5 separate regions of the Homo sapiens genome follow, and all the other regions are linked to region 5. Evidence: fine-mapped expression QTL. A gene starts in region 5. Each other region holds a variant in brackets. All regions are shown on one strand. Distances are between the middles of the regions. Region 1 overlaps ADCY9 (adenylate cyclase 9). Region 2 overlaps ADCY9 (adenylate cyclase 9). Region 3 has its middle 26 kb from the start of ADCY9. Region 4 holds the start of LOC124903633 (a long non-coding RNA gene). Region 5 holds the start of ADCY9 (adenylate cyclase 9).

Region 1 (4,117 bases), 89 kb after region 5:
CGCGCCACTGCACTCTAGCTTGGGTGACAGAGCAAGACTCCATCTCAAAGAAAAAAAAAAGAAAAAAAGAAAATAGATAACGAATTGAGCACTTTTTATTAAAGACAGTTTTACTAAGGTATCATTTGCACACTATGAAGCTCAGCTGTGAAAAGTATACAATTTTATTTTTAGAAAATTTAGGGTATCATCTGGTTTTAGAACATTTCCATCATCCCATGAGGTCCATCATATCTGGTTTCAGGCAATACCTGCTTCCAGTCCCAAACCACAAATCTACTTTCTGTGTCTATAGATTTGCTTTTTCTAGACATTTCATATAATTGGAATCATGCACTATTGTAGTCTTTTGTAGCTGACTTCTCAATTAGCTTATTGTTTTTGAGGTTCTTCTGTATTGTAGCACAGATCAAGTATTTAGGTCCTTTTTCGTGAGTTAAATTCGGTGGTGTGGATATATCACAGTGTGTCCATCCATTCACCAGCTGCTGGACACGTGGATTATTCCCACGTCTTGGCTGTAATAAACAGAGCTGCTCTGAACATCGCTTGCAAGTCTTAGTTGTTTCCATTTCTCGTGAGTAGAGGCTTGGATTGGAATTGCAAGATTGTATGGTAACGTATAATTTTATTTTGCTAATTATCATTTGTGAACTGACTTTTTTCTCTTGCTATACGGTTCTAAGGATCATAACACATGTATAGGTTTTGTAGCCACCAGTACAATCAGGATACAGAACAGTTTAATCACCCCCCAAAAATCTTTCCCAAGGGTTGACCTTTTAATATGATTTGGCTGTGTCCCCACCCAAATCTCATCTTGAATTGTGACTCCCACAATTCCCACATGTTGTGGGAGGGACCCAGTGGGAGGTAATTGAATCGTGGGGGCAGGTCATTCCCATGCTGTTCTCGTGATAGTGAATAAGTCTCACGAGATCTGATGGGTTTTTTTTCTTTTTTTTTTTTTTGAAACGGAATTTTGCTCTTGTCACCCAGGCTGGAGTGCAATGGCATGATCTTGGCTCACCACAACCTCTGCCTCCTGGGTTCAAGCGATTCTCCTGCCTCAGCCTCCCAAGTAGCTGGGATTACAGGCATGGACCACCACACCCAGCTAATTTTTGTTTTACTAGTAGAGATGGGGTTTCACCATGTTGGCCAGGCTGGTCTCGAACTCTTGAGCTCAGGTGATATGCCCACCTCGGCCTCCCACAGTGCTGGGATTACAGGCGTGAGCCACCACGTCCAGTTGATCTGATGGTTTTATAAAGAGGAGTTCCCCTGCACACACTCTCTCTCTTCCCTGCCGTCATGGAAGACGTGACTTGCTCCTCCTTGCCCTCTGCCATGATTGTGAGGCCTCCCTAGCCATGGGGAACTGCAAGCCAGTTAAACCTTTCCTTCGTAATTACCCAGTCTCGGATAATTATAAAGTCTTTATGAACAGTGTGAAAACAGACTAATACACCCTTTATGGGTGTTACCAGTGGAGGGTCTTGACTACAAGTTGTCTGGGTTCTTAACCAGATTCTTGGCATTTTGAACAAAGAATTGGACAAAATGCACAAAGAAAGCAACGAGAAAACGAAGCAAGGGAAGCACAGATTTACTGAAATGAAAGTACACTCCACGGAGTGGGAGCAGGCTCGAGCAGGAGCAAGTGGCTGATTAGAGAATTTTCTGGAGCCTTAATACCCTGTAGAGGTTTACCATTGGTTACTTGGTTACACCCTATGTAAGTGAAGGAGTGGCCTGTGACCAGTCTGATTGGTTGCAGGAGGCGACCAATCAGAGGTTGAAGTGAAGTTGCAACGTTACACCTGAAGACCTGGCCTGGGACCAGTCTGGTTGGTTGCGGGAGGGAACCAATCAGAGGTACTTTCCATTTTTCATCTGCCACGAGGTGCAAAGGGAGTAGTAGCCTCTGATCCTTTTGTTACCTGGGTATGGTTTTCCTTTTGATTCAGTTCTAAAAAGTCAGGGTGAATCGGCCTTAAGTTCCCTGCCTCCAGGCCCCTGCCGACCCAGCAACAACTATCCATTCCCTGTAGTTTTGCCTTTGGGAGCCTGTCATTAAAATGGAACCACACAGCATGTACCCTTTGAAGACTGGTTTCTTCCACTTAGTCTAGAGCTATTGAGATTCGTCCTGGATGCTGCATGGGTCTCTAGTTCATTCCTTGTGATGCTGAGTAGTGCCCCATTGTGGGGAGGGACCACAGTGTGTTTATCCATTCATCCTGGGAAGGA[C/T]ATTAGGTTGGTTTCCAGGTTTTGGCAATTATGAATAGTGCCGCTACAAACATTTGCGTACAGCGTTTTTTGTAAACATAAGGTTTGATTTCTCTAGGGTAAATATCCATGATTGGGGTTTCTGGGTGTATGGTCATTGCAGGATTAACTTTTTTTTTTTTTTTTTTTTTGAGACGGAGTCTTGCTGTTGTTGGCTCAGGCTGGAGTGCAATGGCGTGATCTCAGCTCACTGCAATGTCCGCCTCCCGGGTTCAAGTAGTTCTCCTGTCTCAGCCTCCCGAGTAGCTGGGACTACAGGTGACGCCACCATGCCCAGCTAATTTTTGTATTTTTAGTAGAGACAGGGTTTCACCATGTTGCCTACGCTGGTCTCAGACTCCTGACCTCAGGTGATCCACCTGCCTTGACCTCCCAAAGTGCTGGGATTATAGGCGTGATCCACCGCGCCCAGCCTCTACTTTAGTTTCATAATGGGCTTTAATTTGTGAATTAACTTCTTGATGTATCTGCTCATCCATCCATTCATTCATTCATTTCTATATTCACCCAACAAATAGTTAAGTGCCTTACTTCTGTCTTTGCTATTTCTTTGCCTTTGGAGCACTGTTTTGAAAGAGCCAGCGCCCACTGTCAGCTGTCCAGCTGGTAGCACTGTCATCTGGAAGATTTTAGATACTTTCTCATGAGTGATTCTACACCAGCCTGAATCTCACACTACCTGACATCCTCTCAATCGTAGCCACACCCAAGGGTCCTACTTTGCTGTCCCCACTGCCACCAGACCAAACACACCCCCTTCCCTGAAAGTCTGGGAGTCGGTTTCTTCTTCACAATAGAAGTTGGCCTCTGCTGGTCATGCCCCAAACCTTCTGGAGCTGCGGGTTCTGCCTTCTCTGCAGCTGCCTTCCCGTGGGCTGCCCTGGTCAGTGCAGGACATGGCACAGGACCTCCGCCCTGCCACACCCCCGGGCCATTTCCTCGGCAGGCCTCGTGCCAGACTTCTCCAAAGGACTGACCGCGTGTGCCTTCTCCACCTTGCACACACTCGCACACCAACCTGCCAGCCTGGCCTGTGCTCTTCGCCGCCCAAACGCACCTCTCCCTGGTGTGGTCACTGACAGTCTTTGCGTGGCCAGTGGCCAAACCCAGGCTGGCTTTGCTAGTGGCCTCATCTTCTCTCTGCAGCGTTCACAGTGATCCACTTCTTTTTTTTTTTTTTTGGAGACAGAGTCTTGCTCTGTTGCCCTGGCTGGAGTGCAGTGGCACCAATGTCCGCTCACTGCAACCTCCACCTCCCGGGTTCAAGGCAATTCTCCTGCCTCAGCCTCCTGAGTAGCTGGGATTACAGTCATACACCACCATGCCTGGCTAATTTTTGTATATATATATTTTTTAATAGAGACGGGGGTTTCACCATGTTAGCCAGGCTGGTCTCAAACTCCTGAGCTCAGGTGATCCACCCGCCTCGGCCTCTCAAAGTGCTGGGATTACAGGCTTTAGCCATCACACCCAGCCCCCCTCCCTACCCCTTTGTCCCTCCTCAGAGCCCTGCTGGCCCACTTCCCTGGCCGTTCAAAACATTGCAGCTCCAAGGCTGCTTCCCAGGCCTCCCCACCTGCTGTCTTCTCCCTGGTGATATTATGGACAGTGGATCTCTGGCCCTGAGCTCCCTTCTGATTTCATGGTATGGCCACCTCCTTGTCCCTATCGCTTGAGCGTGTCACCAGCATCTTCAGCTTGGGAGGTCCAGAACTGAGCTCCTGATTTTGCCCCCTAAACTTTTACTTCTTCTGGTCTCACTCATCCGTCCACGTACTGAAGGCAGAACCCAGGAACCCAGGAAGTGTCCTTGTTCCCTTTGTTC
Region 2 (4,117 bases), 110 kb after region 5:
TCTCCTATGCTGCTTTGTGTTCTCAGATAACACAGTGGGGTATGTGTGAGGATGGCGGCCAGTGGTTACAGCTTCACCCAATACGTCCCTGCCTCTCCACATTCATTCACAGGTTTGAAAGCCGCTATTGGTATTTACGAGGAACAGTCTTCATTATGTGGCAGTCAGCTGGGGTATGCAGATTACTTACTGGGTCAGAATACATAGTGCCTGTCGCCCAGTTACACGTAATGATTGCACTCGGGTTCTGTCAACTCCGCTCGTGGATCGCGGTCGTTGGGTGCTTTGTTAGTGTAATGCAGGGCTTCTCACCTTGGCACCGCTGGCATTTTGGACCAGGTAGTCATGTGTTGTGGGGCTGTCCTGTGCACTGTCAGATGGCTGGCAGCATCCCTAGCCGCCACCTGCCAGATGGCAGCATACCCACCCGTACCCTACTCCCCAGCTGTGCCAACCAAAAATGTCTCCAGACATGGCCCAGTGTCCCCTGGGGGTGCAGAGTCACCCCTGGGTGAAAACCACCGGGACAGTGGTGTTGGACCCTCTCTTCCCTGTACTCTTGGCACATGTGTAAAGCTCATGTATCTGAGATTCCCTGGATGCCTGCAAACTTTAGAGACAGCCGCCTTGCCTGGGCTGACGTTGTGCAGGAGTCAGAAAATGGAGCTCTGGGCTCCTAGACAGCGGACCCGGGCAGGGAGGGGCTGGCGTGGGGTGGAATCGGGAATGGTTTTGCTATTTGGGGAAGAATTGTTTCCTCCAGCCTGCAAACTGAGCTGTATTTAAGTCGTGAAAGACAGCCCCGAGCCAAAAATATATAATTCGTTGTGTTTGCCATTTTAGCTTCCACATATGTGTGTTTCTGTCCGTTAGGGGATGCGGTCGCAGAGTTCACCATATCACATGCTCACGGGTTTAGTGACCACGGTTTTAGCAATGGCGATTCTACACTACATTGCACTCTAGTCATATATATTTGTTTTGGTCGGAATGAGCAAAAACCATTTAGCGTATCTTCTTGGCATGTGGAGATTTTCCAAATATTGTTGAAAGTTTCTGAGAATCTTGTGATCTATCAAGTTGACAGAAGGCCGGGCATGGTGGCTCACGCCTGTAATCCTGGTGCTGTGGGCGGCCGAGGTGGGAGGGATGCCTGAGGCTAGGATTTCCAGACCAGCCTGGTCATCGTAGCAAGACATCATCTCTACAAAAAAATTTTAAAAATTAACTGGGCTTGGTGGCCTGTGCCTGCGGTCCCAGCTACTTGGGAGGCTGAGCCAAGAGGATCACTTGAGCCCAGGAATTTAGGCTGCATGAGCTATGATTTTGCCACTGCACTCCAGCTTAGGCCACAGAGTGAGACCTTGTCCTGTCTCCAAAAAAAGGGAGGAGGGTGCTCAGTGGTAAAGTAAATTCGGGAAGCTTGGGATATTCAACACAGAAAGGGTTTCTTTACTGCAGGACTTCTCGGAGCCTTCACTAGGCTAGTAGACAGTAGCTAGGCCTTCAGAGGAGGACGCGGTATATACAGCATTCTCAGGCCTCTTTGAGCACAATTGTTTTTTTTCAAGCTGCACCTTGCAGGGCTAATGTGGTCACACCTTTTGGGGGAATGCTCATGTAGTAAAAGGAGTTTCATGCCAAGGACCAATACATTAGAGAAAAGGTGTTCAGGAAACGTTCCCTGAAGGAGCATGCGTAGATTTTCACGTGTGTCCTGTTCCTGCTGCTGCTCACTTGAGATACTCATGGCTTCTCTTTCCCCTGAACTCCTGTCTGCATTCACCGTTCAGCTCCACCACGCCTTCCCGTGCCTCCGCAGCTGATAACGCTGTTCCCTCGTCTCCAAATTCTCAGTCCCTTCAGTCTGTCCCACTTGGCTGTAACATACACGATCTTAAATCTTTGTTTCTTATGCGTCTTCCTGG[G/A]AGCTCTTTGCATTCAGAGACTGAGTGTTAAATAACTTAAATATTTCCCAAGTGTCGAGCATGGTGCCTGGCATGTAGTAATTAACAGTTTCTTTTTGGCTTTTTAATTCTTTAATTAAACACATGGAGCGATGCAGCTCTGCAGAGCCAGGCGAAGGACTGAAGTCAGAAGCCCGAGCAGAACTGTGTAGAACCAGGGCAGCGCCCACGAAGGGTTTATTTCCTGCCCTTAGCATGTGTGTCCTCTGTGACCTTAAGTCATCTCCTAGGTCATAGCTGGAAAATTCTTATCTAATGTAACATAACCTGTGTACTGTAACGACCTACCAGGAAATGATAGTGATGTCAAAGGCCAGGGCTTTGGTCCTGAAGTCATAGCTCAAAGGGAACCCTTTCTACACCCAAGTGTTGGCTTCTTTTTTTTTTTTTTTTTTTTTTAAAGAGATGGGATCTCGCTCTGTTGCCCAGGCTAGAGTACCAGTGGTATGATCTTAGCTCACTGCAGCTCGAAACTCTCAGGCTCAAGTGATCCTCCCAAGTCAACCTGCTGAGTAGCTAGGACCACAGGCATGTGCCACTATGCCTAGCTAATTTTTAAATTTTTTTTTTTTTGCTATATTGCCCAGGATGGTTGCCAACTCCTGGGGTTATACCATCCTCCTGCCTTGGCCTCTTAAAATGCTGGGATTACAGTCATGAGCCACTGTGCCTGGCCTTGGGTTCTTGAAATGACCAGCAGTGAGAGGTCCTCATCCTAAGGGCCCTGACATTGCATAATGTGGGGGACAGATACTGCCCGAGTGAAGGAAGGAGAGGTCAAGAAGGAAACCAAGGAGTAAGCATTAGACATGAGGACGCCACTGTCAGCGTCGCGGAGGGGAGGCGGACCACGGCGGGCAGGGGCGCAACTTGAAGCAAGACCCTTCTCAAGCCTTGGCTTTGCGACTGTGAAGAAACTGCAGCCAGGTGCAGTGGCTCATGCCTGTAGTCCTAGCCACTCAGACAGCTGAGGCAGGAAGATCGCTTGAGCCCAGGAGTTAGAGGCTGCAGTGAGCTGTGATGATGCCACTGCACTCCAACCAGGGTGACAGAATGAGACACTGTCTCAAAAAAAAAAAAAAAAAAAGAAAAGAAAGAGCAAACACACACTTAATTCCTCTAAGTGAGAGTTTTCCTCTTCAGTGCGGTGGTGATAAGGAAGAGACCTCTCGGGATTGCTGGGAGATGAGCCGGAATGGTGCCTGTGGACGCCAGGGCTGAGAAGAAGCCTCGCTCACACTCGGCACGCACGCCTTCACTCCACGCAGAGCAGGGACAGTGACCACAGACGGAGCCATGGAGGACTGGGAGGGGCCGAGAGACGGTCCCAGCTTGCCTGCAGGAAGTCACTGACTCTCTGGGGAAGGTCCCATCTTCTCCACGGTTCCGATTCGAGGGAGATTCTCACAGTGATTGCGGCTGAGCATTGCTGTGGGTTGGATGCTCTCGGCCGTAACCAAGTCACTTGTATGACACGGGAGCATGTGTGCCTTGGCCTGTTGAATGTGACGTCAGCGCTCCAGCAGGCATTTGCTTTCCATTTTCTCATGAACCCTGTGGGTGATGAGTGGATCTAGATGCCATATATCAATAAAAACAGCTTTTCCAACATCTTCATGAAGAAAAAGAAAACCCAACTGGGCTCAGTGGCTCATGCCTGTAATCCCAACACTTTGGGAGGCCGAGGCAGAGAGATCACCTGCGGTCAGGAGTTCAAGGCCAGCCTGGCCAACATGGTGAAACCCCATCTCTACTAAAAATACAAAAATTAGCCAGGTGTGGTGGCATATGCCTGTAGTCCTAAGCCACTCAGGAGGCTGAGGCAGGAGGATCCCTTGAACCTAGTAGGTGAAGGTTGCAGTGAGCTGAGACCACGCCACTGCACTTCAGACTGGGCAATAGAGTGAGACTCCATCTCGAAAAGAAAAGAAAACCCAAAATTGAATTACTTGTATCACATTACTTCTGATCAGGGAACCATTTGAGCTGTGAAAGCATCTTAGTACATCTCTGAAAGGCCTCCCTGGAGCGCACCTGCGTGGCTGGTCTTCCTGAGTTTACCTTCATCTATTATTCAGAACCCCGGGCTGCTTGGCCACTGGGTGTTTCTACATGGACCAGTCAGTAATGAAGCTAGTGATGTAGATTTA
Region 3 (4,117 bases), 26 kb before region 5:
GTCTCTCTCTGTCACCCAGGCTGGAGCGCAGTGGTGCGATCTCGGGTCACTGCGACCTCTGCCTCCCAGGTTCAAGTGATTCTCCTGCCTCAGCCTCCGGAGTAGCTGGGATTACAGGCGAGTGCCACCACACCTGGCTAATTTTTGTATTTTAGTAGAGATGGGGTTTCACCATGTTGGCCAGGCTGGTCTCTAACTCCTGGCCTCAAGAGATCCACCAGCTTCGGCCTACCAAAGTGCTGGATTACAGGCGTGAGCCACCACGCGCGGCCAACAATGTGAATATACTTAATGTCACTGAATTGCACATTTTAAAAATGGTTACAATGGTAAATTTTAGGTTACATATATTTTATCAAAATCGTGTGTTTGTAATCTAGTTGGTGACCTAAATTTTTGCAATTATGATATAATCAATGATTTTTCAAAGGTGATACTGTCCACCAGTGTTTGTGGGGTGCAAAAACATTGCTGAGTTTGTTCATTTATTCAACCAGCATGCCTTGGCTGCCTGCTCTGTCGGAGCCTCCTGAGCTAAACTTGAAGATATAAAGTCAATGATCCCACCACTTGGGAGGCCGTGGAGGAACACTTGAGGTCAGGAGTTTGAGACCAGCCTGGGCAACATAGCAAGATCCCGTCTGTAAAAAAAAAAAAATAGAATCACTCACATGCCTACTCTTTCAGAACTAGGTTCTGAGGGTGAGGATCAAGAGCCAGCCCATGAACCTCTGACTCGGTGAGTGAAGCTTCCGGCAGAACATCCGGCCTGGCATCCGAGGCGGCACTTATCTGAAGCCTCTTATATGAGGAGGATCTCAAAAGAAGCAGGGAGAGAGCCTTGGGAGAGGAACCTGGTGCCAGCCCTGGATACAGAGATGGAGTCGTGACGGTGTCGGGCCAGCCTGAGAAATAGCAGGAGACCTGACATGGCCTAGGGTGGGGCTCTAGGTGCTTGATGAAAGTGAGATGGAAGGAGTGCACCGTGGTGACTGCGGAGTCCTCAAAGCCACTGCGACCCTCACCTTTACCTCCTGTCAGCTGGTGAGCTTGGTAAGGTTGAAGAAAAAAATCTCTTGGGGCCGAGCACGGTGGCTTATGCCTGTAATCCCAACACTTTGGGAGGCCAAGGCAGGTGGATTGCTTGGGGCCAGGAGTTTGAGTCCAGCCTGGGCAACATAGCAAGACCCCATCTCTACAAAACAAAATAAAAAAAAAATAGCCAGGCATGGTGGCATATGCCTGTGGTCCCAGGTACTTGGGAAGCTGAGACAGGAGGATCTCTTGAGTCCAGTAGTTTGAGGCTGCAGTGAGCCGTGATCACACCACTGCACACCAGCCTGGGCAACAGAGCAAGACACTGTCCACCCACCAAAAAAATGAACAAACGAAACTCTGTAAATCTGTTTTTCTCATCAATAAAACAGATAATACTTCTCACATTGATAGGATTAAATCAGAAAATCTGTGTAAAGTGTCTAGCTGAGATACATCTTTTTTTTTTTTTCGAGACGGAGTCTCACTCTGTTGCCCAGGCTGGAGTGCGGTGGTGCAATCTTGGCTCACTGTAACCTCTGCCTCCTAGGTTCAAGCGATTGTCATGCCTCGGCCTCCCGAGTAATAGCTGAGCTATGTCTATATTTACATCTCTACCTACAGATGATATCTTGTCTATATCTGTATCTACACACACACAAGACAGGGCAGGGTG[T/C]GAGAACTCTGAAGGTCTGGAAACAAGCCTTGATTATTTCTAGGTTTCGCTTCTCTGTTTTGCAGCCAGGGCATTTGGCTCTGGGAAGTGGTGAGAGCATCCTGGGTGTGTCTGGCGAGCTGGGTGTCTCTAGCCCAGCATCTTTGTCAGCGTGTAGCTGGGGGTGTGGAACCAAGGGCAGAGGGGATGGGTGGGGCTTGGAGGTGGCAGCAAGCATGAGTGTTGACGTCGTGGAAGCCTAAGGCTGGTTCTTTCATGGGTTACCATATTGGGGCCCAGGTGAGAAGTCTAATCCTTTGGGTGTCACAGTTTGACTTGTTGCCACAGAAACCACACCATCTCAACATGATCCATCCAACTGCTTCCTGGAAAAGCAGTTTGGAAGGCAATTGGATCATTTTATTATTATTTCTTTTAAATAAATATATTTTTAAAAAACAGAGATGGGGTTTTGCCATGTTGTCCAGGCTGGTCTCGAACTCCTGGGCTCAAGCAATCTGCCTGCTTCAGCCTCCCAAGGTGCTGGGATTACAGGCGTGAGCCACCGCGCCTGGCCAATTGGATCATTTTCATCAATGAAAGATGGTGCATTCTCGCACCTGCTTGGGTATCATGTATGAACGACGTAAATGTGATAGAGCCCAAAGAAATGATTTGCTCAGGAACGGACCGTTGAGGGAGGAAAATGGAGACAACTCACGAACCTCTATTAGCCATTTTTGGATGGAAAAAAATTGCATCTTCATTTTTATGAATTCCAAATAGGGACATTTTTATGTCCTTCCATTATGAGTATGGCAACAGACCACAGTATTATTCATGGGGCCATAGCTTCATTGAAGTGGATAGCGCGGATACTTAATCAAAGAGGATTGACGCAGAAAATCGGTGAAAAGATCTAGGCTATTTTCTCTACTTTGGCTTCCGCAAGATATGGGGACACAAATCGCATTTGTTCCATTGCTTTATGAGCCAGGTTGACTTAACTACTGAGGGAAGACGCCTGGCGTGCTGCCCACGAGGCGGCAGGAGCAAACTCTTCAGGTTATCATTGGTGGAAATTTCCACAGATGCGTCTTCAGGCTGAGAGGTCAATTTATTGGGCTCATGTGGAAGGCTGGAAAGGCTTGATTAACTAGTCAGTCTCATTCACTTTTTCTTTCTTTTTTTTTTTTTTTTGGCTGTGGTGGAGTCTCACTCTGCCGCCCAGGCTGGAGTGCAGTGGTGAGATCTCAGCTCACTGCAACCTCCGACTCCCAGATTCAAGCGATTCTCCCACCTCAGCCTCCCAAGTAGCTGGGACTACAGGTGTGCGCCACAACTCCTGACTAATTTTTGTATTTTTTAGTAGAGATGGGGTTTTGCCATGTTGGCCAGGCTGGTCTCCAATTCCTGACCTCAGGTGATCCGCCCACCTCAGCCTCCCAAAGTGCTGGGATTACAGGCGTGAGCCCTGTGCCTGGCCTGTTATATTCATTTACTTTAAAGGAAAGTATTTGCCAAAGGACCTTTTCTCGTGAGGAATGTTTTGACTGATCACCTTCTTTGTATTAATGTTAATACTGTCATTTTCCTCACCTATGAGATGTCTGAGTATTCTCAAATTATTCAGCCTTCCCATGATTTTAACATCTTTCATCCAATCTTCAAATTTTACTTTCACTTCCACAATCTTGTCCAGCTCAGTAGGTAAAAGCCGCATGCCTGGGCATGTTCCCTAGCTGTGCTCTCAGCATAAATTAGATAGCGTGTCAGTTTGGAGTTCATACAGAGGCAAGTAACAGAAAGCCCTGTTTTAGAGGCTGATGATAATAAAGAATTCCTTTTTCCTGGGTAGGAAAAAGTTCACGGTAGGCACTTTGGTGCTGGTATCTGTATTGGTTCATTCTCACATTGCTATAAAGAAATGCCTGAGGCTGGGTAATTTATAAAGAAAAGAGATTGAATTTGTTCACAGTTCCATAGACTGTACAGGAAGCGTGGTGCTGCCATCTGCTCAGCTTCCAGGGAGGCCTTAGGAAACCTCCAATCATGGTGGAAGGTGAAGCGAAGCAGGCTTGTCCTACATGGTTGAAGCAGAAGCAGGAGAAAGAGAGAGGGGAGGTGCTGTCTCTCTTGTTCCTGCTCCACCGATCACTGTCACTATCATAACAACAGCACCAAAGCGAGATGGTGTTAAACTATGAGAAACCGCCCCATGATCTAATCACCTCCCACCAGACCCTACCTCCAGCACTGGGGATTACATTTCAACATGAGATTTGGGTGGGGACACAGATCCAAACCATATCAGTATTAATGACTATTGATGCCATCAAGAACCCAGGCTCTTCTCATTTTTCTGTTCCTCTGTCCTTAGCATAGACCTCATTCTCAAGCCTCTTGTCTCATGGTTGCAAGATGGCT
Region 4 (4,117 bases), 130 kb after region 5:
CCCATGCACCCTGCTCCCAGAACCGTGGTTCTGGCCTAAGCAGACTCTGGGGGCCTCGGCTCCTCACTTTCCTCCCTTCCCCTCCACCTCCGCACCGACTCTTCCCATGTCTCAATGTCCTGGCAGCCTGAACACCCAGCGTTACCACTGGGCACTGTTGGGTAACAGGAAGGAGCAGACGGGCAGTCAGGGCTGGGATTGGAGCAGGTCTGTAGGCGCAGGGGGGTGGGGGTTCCTCGCAGGTCAGAAAGTCCCACGCCCAGTGCAGCAGCGCCCCGCAGCGGAGGTCGGGGTGGGACAGGCGTGTGTGCCCAGTGCCCGGTGCCACTTCACTTCCCGTGTCTGCGTCCTCTTTGTCTCGAGGCAGGCTTCTGGAGGACCTAATCCCAAAACTCAGAACGGGCTCCTCAGCCCTCCCCAAGAGGAGAAGCTCACCAACAGTCAGACTTCTCTGTGTGAGATCTTGCAGGAGAAGGGAAGGTGGGCAGGGGTGAGCCTGGACCAGTCGGCTCTCCTTCCGCTGAGGTTCAAGAACATCCGGGAGAAAACGGACGCCCACTTTGTGGACGTTATCAAAGAAGACAGGTACGACTGGGGCTGTCTGGGAAAAAGCAAAGGTTGCAGGCAGAAGCCTCTCTGCCTTTTTCTTTTCTTTTCTTTAAGACTGAGTCTCGCTCTGTCATCCAGGCTGCAGTGCAGTGGCGCGATCTTGGCTCACTGCAGCCTCTATCTCCCAGGTTCAAACGATGCTCCTGCCTCAGCCTCCCAAGTAGCTGGGGTTACTGGCACCCACCACCATGCCTGGCTAGGTTTTGTATTTTTAGTAGAGATGGAGTTTCATCATGTTGGCCAGGCTGGTCTCCATACTCCTGACCTCGGGTGATCCACCTACCCCACCCTCCCAGAGTGCTGGGATTATAGGCGTGAGCCACCACGCCTGGCTTTTTTTTTTTTTTTTTTTTTTTTTATAAGGACTAGGTCTTGCTGTGTTGCCCAGGCTGGAGTGCAGTGGCTCAATCTCGGCTCACTGCAACCTCCACCTCCCAGGTTCAAGTAATTCTCCTGCCTAGGTCTCTCAAGTAGCTGGGACTACAGGCATACACAACCATGCCCAGCTAATTTTTGTGTTTTTAGTAGAGATGGGTTTTTAACATGTTGGCCAGGCGGGTCTCGAACTCTTGGCCTCAGGTGATCTGCCCGCCTCGGCCTCCTAAAGTGCTGGGATTACAGGTGTGAGCCTGTGCCTGGCCTAATGGTAACATTTTTGAAAAATACAGGTCCAGTCCTTTTATCAAATATTCCTGAAGTTGGATTGGTTAGATTCAGGCTCTCCCTCTGGCCAGGCAGAGACTGCAGAAGGGATGCCGTGTCCTCCTCAGGGTGTCCTCTCCAGGGACACGCAGTGCCCGTCTGTTCCTCATTAGTGATACTAATTTTGATTAATTAGGCAAGGTGGTGCCGGGTTGTCTCATCTAGGGTTATTATATTCCTCTTATGACTAATAAGCAATCTGTGAGAAAATACTTGAAGATCTTGTACATATTTCATTCCCCATCAGAATTCCCTAGATTTAACATTCATTGATGATTCTTGCCTCTGTCTTCACTATAATGCCTCAAAGGGTGATTTTCAGCCAGGCGCTGTGGCTCACGCCTATAATCCCAACACTTTGGGAGGCCGAGGCAGGTAGATCACCTGAAGTCAGGGGTTCAAGACCAGCCTGGCCAACAAGGTGAAACCCCGTCTCTACTAAAAGTACAAAAATTAGCTGGGCGTGGTGGCGGGTGCCTGTCATCCCAGCTACTCAGGAGGCTGAGGTAGGAGAATCGCTTGAACCCAGGAGGCAGAGGCTGCAATGAGCTGAGATCGCAGCACTGCAACTCCAGCCTGGGCAACAGAGCGAGTCTCCATCTCAAAAAACAAATAAGAAATAAATGGAGCAGCACAGCTAATAGCAGTGTCGCTTCTGCCACTTGACTGCTAAAATGTGGCCTTGTGCACATCCTCTCTGCAGCTGCGTGGTTGCTCTTCCCTCAGTCCACACTCCCTGAGTCAGGGGAGGAGAGAGGGTCAGTGTCCTGGGACAGAATTATTTCTCTTCTGAGTCTGAGAATGTTGGAAGTTACTGGATACCTGTCACAGAAAGGAGAGTGTCCGCCGTGCTGCAAGGACAGGAAGGAACACACGTGATGAGCCGTACTTTGTGTGGGGGGCACATGAGGCACTTGACATATTTCACCTGATTTACTCTTTTTTTTTTTTTTTGAGACATAGTCTTGCTGTGTCACCCAGGCTGTAATGCAGTGGCGCCATCTTGGCTCATTGCAACCTCCATCTCCCAGGTTCAAGTGATTCTCCTGCCTTAGCCACCCGAGTAGCTGGGATTACAGGCACCTGCCACCAGGCCTGGCTAATTTTTGTATTTTTTGTAGAAACGGGGGTTCACCATGTTGGCCAGGCTGGTCCCGAGCTCCTGACCTCAGGTGATCCGCTTGCCTCGGCCTCCCAAAGGTCTGGGGATTACAAGGATGAGCCACCG[C/T]GCCCAGCCTCGTCTAATTTACTTCTGATAGTCACTGTATGAGGGAGAGAGGCTAACACAGCTATATTTGCTTTCTGAAATCATGTTAACGTTCCCTTAGTTTCTAGTAATTTTCTGCAGTATAGAAAGGATATTACTATTTGCTGGCAATTCATAAATGAATGAAAGAGTCATGGAAAGCGGGGTTGATTTCCCTGCTATTAAAATCACTGAGCTTTATCATTCTGCAGGTTTCACATGCAATCTGCATATGTGACAATAGCACCAAAATTACGCTAACTATAAACACAATTTTGTGATAACAACCTGTTAGCTTTTACGGTGGCAATTACTGTCAGTGCTCTGAATGACAGGACCGCCGGTTCTGAATTATGTTTTCGTTTGAAGCCTCCAAATCCATGTAAGTACTCTCAGCACAGTGATCTGCGTGTTCTTCACAAAAGATTGTTTCAAAGAACAGAAAAGCTGCCTTCATCTTCTCCTAATCCTAGACATTAGGAATGTGTTTTCAAAAACAAGCCTCAGCAGCTCACGCTGTCATCCCAGCACTTTGGGAGGCCGAGATGGGTGGATCTCTTGAGCCCAGGAGTTCGAGACCAGCCTGACCAACATGGTGAAACCCCGCGTCTGCTAAAAAATACAAAAATTAGCTGGGTGCGGTGGCAGGCGCCTGTAATCCCAGCTACTCAGGAGGCTGAGGCAGGAGAATTGCTTGAACCTGGGAGGCGGAGATTGCAGTGAGCCAAGATCGCTGCGCCATTGCACTCCAGCCTGGGCGACAGAGTGAGACCTTGCCTCAAAAAAAAAAAACCCCAAAAAACCAAGGTTCTGATGATGTGTGCTATAATCATGGTGGATGGTCATTCTTTAACGAAGGTGAAACACAAAATATGATTATGCTTTGAGGTGCGAAGGACTTTCCACAGATCTGTTTTAACAAGGGGCAGCTGAGTGGCGTCTGTTCCACAGGCGCTTTTAGACGCAGCTGTTGTAATATACCTAATGAGCAGCGTTTTGGTAGCTAATTATGATCTGAAAACATTGGCACAGTTATGGTGCTGGGTATTGATCGACTGCATTTGTTGTGTCTTCTAGCCTGATGAAAGATTACTTTTTTAAGCCGCCCATTAATCAGTTCAGCCTGAACTTCCTGGATCAGGAGCTGGAGCGATCCTACAGGACCAGCTATCAGGAAGAGGTGCGTTCATTTCTCCTTGCGCTTTTACTAAAGAATGTGTTTGTTGTTCTCACATGGTCATTCACTGTTAGTTTTGTGCTTTACCAAGGGATGGGAACACGAAGGCGAACATTGATTTCCCACACTCTGTAAACCCTAAGTGGCAACTGTACATGAAATGTCTCTTTGCAAAGGAGGAAAAAAACCCTTTCTTTAGTCCTTTGTCTTAAAGCGCAGCCTCGCCATTACTAGCCCCTTTCCTCTGCCGTGGCATCTCCAGGCTATCCCCAGCCTTGGAAGGGGCCCCCCCACCACAACCTGTCCTGAAAGGAAACCCCCAACCTGCCCTGGAAGGAAACCCCCCCACCTGCCTTGGAAGGGGCCCCCACACCTGCCCTGGT
Region 5 (4,117 bases):
ACTGGTTAATCACTTTGTAGAACAGGTCTCAATCTGGGTTTGTCTGGTGTTTTCTTGCGATTGGATTGAGATTACACACTTCTGCAGGAATACCACCACAATATGTTGCTTTTAGTTTTTTCCTCCTTTATTGTGGTAAAATACACTCAACATAACATTTACCATTTAAACCACTTTATTTTATTTTATTATTATTTTTTGAGATGGAGTTTCACTCTTGTTGCCCAGGCTGGAGTGTAATGGTGCGAACTCAGCTCACCACAACCTCCGCCTCCCGGGTTCAAGCAATTCTCCTGCCTCGGCCTCTCGAGTAGCTGGGATTACAGGCATGTGCCACCACGTCCGGCTAATTTTTGTATTTTTAGTAGAGATGGGGTTTCTCCGTGTTGGTCAGGCTGGTCTCGAACTCCCGACCTCAGGTGATCCGCCCACCTCGGCCTCCCAAAGTGCTGGGATTACAGGCGTGAGCCACCGCTCCCGGCCTAAACCACTTTAAAGTGTATGATTCAAGGGCAGTATGTAGATTCATCCTGTTGGATCATTTCTAGACTTTTTCATCATCCTAAAACGAAACCCCAAGCTGCTTATCTTCCTCCCCTAGCACCTGGCAACCTCCAATCTGTGTCGCCTCTACGGATTTGCCAATTCGAGACATTTCATCTGGATGGAATCATACGCTATGTGGCCTTTTTTGTTTGGCTTCTTTCACTAGCATAACGTTTCCCGGGTTCCTCCACACTGCAGCATGCATCGGTGCTCCATTCCTTTTTGTAGCCGAATAATATTCCATTGCATGGACAGATCACATTTTACTTTTATTTTCTAATTCAACAGTGAGACCTGGTGTGGGCCCCGGCGCTGGGCCTGGGAGGCGAGGGAGGGGATGGAAGAGAGCCCCGTGACTGGCAGGAGGCACTGTGGAGTGTGGGGAGAAGGGGTCGGGATCTGCATGCTAGAGAGAATAGGATTTTATTTACACGTGGCAATGTTTATGGAGGCCAATGCACAACTGCCATTATGGGACGCGGACTCCTTTGAAAGTCTCATTTGTGTAAAAGGAAAAGCAGTAGTTCATGAGGAGGGGGAGAAGGGCTCAAGGACAGCAAGGTAAACTACCCCTGGGGCGGGGGAACGTGGTCGTCGGTGGGCCCAGCTTTGGAGGCTAGGCCCGTGAAGGTCGCCCCGTGAGCAGGTCCAGGGCAGGCCGAGTGCCCCGGGGCCCGCATTCATTGCTTACAGAGCAAGGGGAGCCTCCCGGGAGGGAAATCCAACGGTTGGAAACTTCGATTTATCCCAAAGGCGTGCCGAGTGGGAAGGCAACATTTTGATTTCCCAAACGTTGCGGCCAGCGGCTTCTTCCACGGCAGGCGCCTTCAGGTCTCTCCGCAGGGTCGGGACCCCGGGCGGCGCGCGGCCTCTGGGACGCCGAGGGAGGGCGGGCCCACAGCGCCCGGAGCGCGGACAGCGGCCACAGCCCGCCGCCTAGAAGCGGCGCCGCCCGGGGCGGGGGGCGGAGCCGAGCGCGCGCCCCGCCCCGCCCCGCCCCGCCCCGCAGCCCCAGCCCAGCGCGCGCACCAAGGCGGGGCGGCGCGCGGCCCGTGCGCGTGTCCGGGGCCAGGAGGCGGTGGCGGCGAGCGCGGGCCGCGCGTGCGCGCTGCGGCTGGGCGAGGGGCGGCGCGGGCGCGCGTCTGTCAGTGACAGCGGGCGGGGCAGGGGCCGGAGATGGTGGCGGCGGCAGCTCTTCCGACATGAGGCAGCGGCCGCGGGGGACACGGCGGCGGGCGCGGCGGCGGCCGCATCTCTAGCTCGGGGAGGCGGCCCCCGGCGTGGGCGCGGGCGGGCGGGCGTCCCGGCCGGCGTCGCGGGAGCCCGGCTCTGCGGCAGCGTCTGCACCGCCGCCCGGCGAGGGGCCCGCGTCCGTGGTTCCACGCGCTCGGTCCCGGGACAGCTGCGGCCGCGGCGGGAGCGGCGGCGCACTCGGGGGGAAGCAGGCCCCACTAGACGGGCCGCGCCGACGGGCTCCGCGCACTCGCAGCCCGGGGCGCCCCCACCCCCAGCGCCCGCCGCCGCGGGCAGGGCCGGCCCGGAGCGCGGGGGGCGGCCGGGGAGCGCGAGCCGGGGGCGCCCGCCGAAGCTCGCTGCTCCGGGTCGGGGTCCGGGCCCGGGGCCGGCCGCGCGCCGCCTTTGACGCATCGGAGCGCGGCTCCTGCAGGATGGAGGGCTCCGCGCCGCCAGCGGAGTTGTTTGTGCGCAGGCGGCTCGCGGGGCTGGGAGCGCTCAAGGTCTGAACTTCCCTCCGGAGCCGCAGCTGGAGGAGGCGAGCGCGCGAGGAGGAGAAGCCGCGCGGCGCGGAGGCCACCCTCGGGGCGAGAGGCGCGGAAGGCGAGCGAGCAAAGCGGTCCCGGAGCCACGGCGGCCACGCGGCGGGGACCCCCGGGCGTTCTAGGTCCGTCCCGAGCGGTTCTCGTGCGCCTCGAAGGTGGGGGCGGTGGGGGCGGTGGGAGCACCGCTGAGCCGGGAACCACAGGAACAGATGGTGCCTGTCCAGGTCGCGTGCTGGAGCCGCCCCTTAGGACAGGAGCAGGTCCCGGGCCTCTAGGCGTGCATGCCTAGGTGGGAGCGCCGCTAACTCTCCCCGTTTTGCTGGCAGGTACTGGTGACCCCGGCCGGGGCAGGCCCCGGGACTCGACAACATGGCTTCCCCACCCCACCAGCAGCTGCTGCATCACCACAGCACCGAGGTGAGCTGCGACTCCAGCGGGGACAGCAACAGCGTGCGCGTCAAGATCAACCCCAAGCAGCTGTCCTCCAACAGCCACCCCAAGCACTGCAAATACAGCATCTCCTCTAGCTGCAGCAGCTCTGGGGACTCCGGGGGCGTCCCCCGGCGAGTGGGCGGCGGAGGCCGGCTGCGCAGGCAGAAGAAGCTGCCCCAGCTGTTCGAGAGGGCCTCCAGCCGCTGGTGGGACCCCAAGTTCGACTCGGTGAACCTGGAGGAGGCCTGCCTGGAGCGCTGCTTCCCGCAGACCCAGCGCCGGTTCCGGTATGCGCTCTTCTACATCGGCTTCGCCTGCCTTCTGTGGAGCATCTATTTTGCGGTCCACATGAGATCCAGACTGATCGTCATGGTCGCCCCCGCGCTGTGCTTCCTCCTGGTGTGTGTGGGCTTCTTTCTGTTTACCTTCACCAAGCTGTACGCCCGGCATTACGCGTGGACCTCGCTGGCTCTCACCCTGCTGGTGTTCGCCCTGACCCTGGCTGCGCAGTTCCAGGTCTTGACGCCTGTCTCAGGACGCGGCGACAGCTCCAACCTTACGGCCACAGCCCGGCCCACAGATACTTGCTTATCTCAAGTGGGGAGCTTCTCCATGTGCATCGAAGTGCTCTTTTTGCTCTATACCGTCATGCACTTACCTTTGTACCTGAGTTTGTGTCTGGGGGTGGCCTACTCTGTCCTTTTCGAGACCTTTGGCTACCATTTCCGGGATGAAGCCTGCTTCCCCTCGCCCGGAGCCGGGGCCCTGCACTGGGAGCTGCTGAGCAGGGGGCTGCTCCACGGCTGCATCCACGCCATCGGGGTCCACCTGTTCGTCATGTCCCAGGTGAGGTCCAGGAGCACCTTCCTCAAGGTGGGGCAATCCATTATGCACGGGAAGGACCTGGAAGTGGAAAAAGCCCTCAAAGAGAGGATGATTCATTCCGTGATGCCAAGAATCATAGCCGATGACTTAATGAAGCAGGGAGATGAGGAGAGTGAGAATTCTGTCAAGAGGCATGCCACCTCGAGCCCCAAGAACAGGAAGAAAAAGTCTTCCATCCAAAAAGCTCCTATAGCCTTCCGCCCTTTTAAGATGCAGCAGATCGAAGAAGTCAGTATTTTATTTGCAGATATCGTGGGCTTCACCAAGATGAGTGCCAACAAGTCTGCCCACGCCCTGGTGGGTCTCCTGAACGATCTGTTCGGTCGCTTCGACCGCCTGTGTGAGGAGACCAAGTGTGAGAAAATCAGCACCCTGGGAGACTGTTACTACTGCGTGGCGGGCTGTCCCGAGCCCCGGGCCGACCATGCCTACTGCTGCATCGAGATGGGCCTGGGCATGATCAAGGCCATCGAGCA

Evidence for each region. PIP is the estimated chance that this variant, and not a neighbour inherited with it, causes the effect.
Region 1: its variant is the best candidate, but not a certain one, in a credible set for the expression of ADCY9 in monocytes (BLUEPRINT, PIP 0.57).
Region 2: its variant is the best candidate, but not a certain one, in a credible set for the expression of ADCY9 in lung (TOPMed, PIP 0.63).
Region 3: its variant is the best candidate, but not a certain one, in a credible set for the expression of ADCY9 in cerebellar hemisphere (GTEx, PIP 0.73).
Region 4: its variant is the best candidate, but not a certain one, in a credible set for the expression of ADCY9 in whole blood (TOPMed, PIP 0.65).

What each region holds. Positions count from the first base shown.
Region 1 is chr16:4,024,732-4,028,848 of GRCh38, reverse strand. The region is part of intron 2 of ADCY9 (adenylate cyclase 9); the gene reads left to right. Among named protein-coding and RNA genes, the nearest start is that of TRIDDENT, 76 kb to the right of the region's middle. RefSeq lists enhancers at 2,792-3,291, 3,292-3,793. The variant C/T (reference allele first, on the strand shown) is at 2,254.
Region 2 is chr16:4,002,501-4,006,617 of GRCh38, reverse strand. The region is part of intron 3 of ADCY9 (adenylate cyclase 9); the gene reads left to right. Among named protein-coding and RNA genes, the nearest start is that of TRIDDENT, 54 kb to the right of the region's middle. The variant G/A (reference allele first, on the strand shown) is at 1,929.
Region 3 is chr16:4,140,181-4,144,297 of GRCh38, reverse strand. No RefSeq gene overlaps it. Among named protein-coding and RNA genes, the nearest start is that of ADCY9, 26 kb to the right of the region's middle. The variant T/C (reference allele first, on the strand shown) is at 1,712.
Region 4 is chr16:3,988,614-3,992,730 of GRCh38, reverse strand. It overlaps ADCY9 (adenylate cyclase 9), which reads left to right. Exons shown (of 11, transcript NM_001116.4): 5 at 368-585; 6 at 3,635-3,737. It overlaps LOC124903633 (a long non-coding RNA gene), which reads right to left and starts at 601. Exons shown (of 2, transcript XR_007064956.1): 1 at 1-601. The variant C/T (reference allele first, on the strand shown) is at 2,540.
Region 5 is chr16:4,114,019-4,118,135 of GRCh38, reverse strand. It overlaps ADCY9 (adenylate cyclase 9), which reads left to right and starts at 1,694. Exons shown (of 11, transcript NM_001116.4): 1 at 1,694-2,446; 2 at 2,651-4,117. The coding sequence starts at 2,694. RefSeq lists a silencer at 1,487-1,556.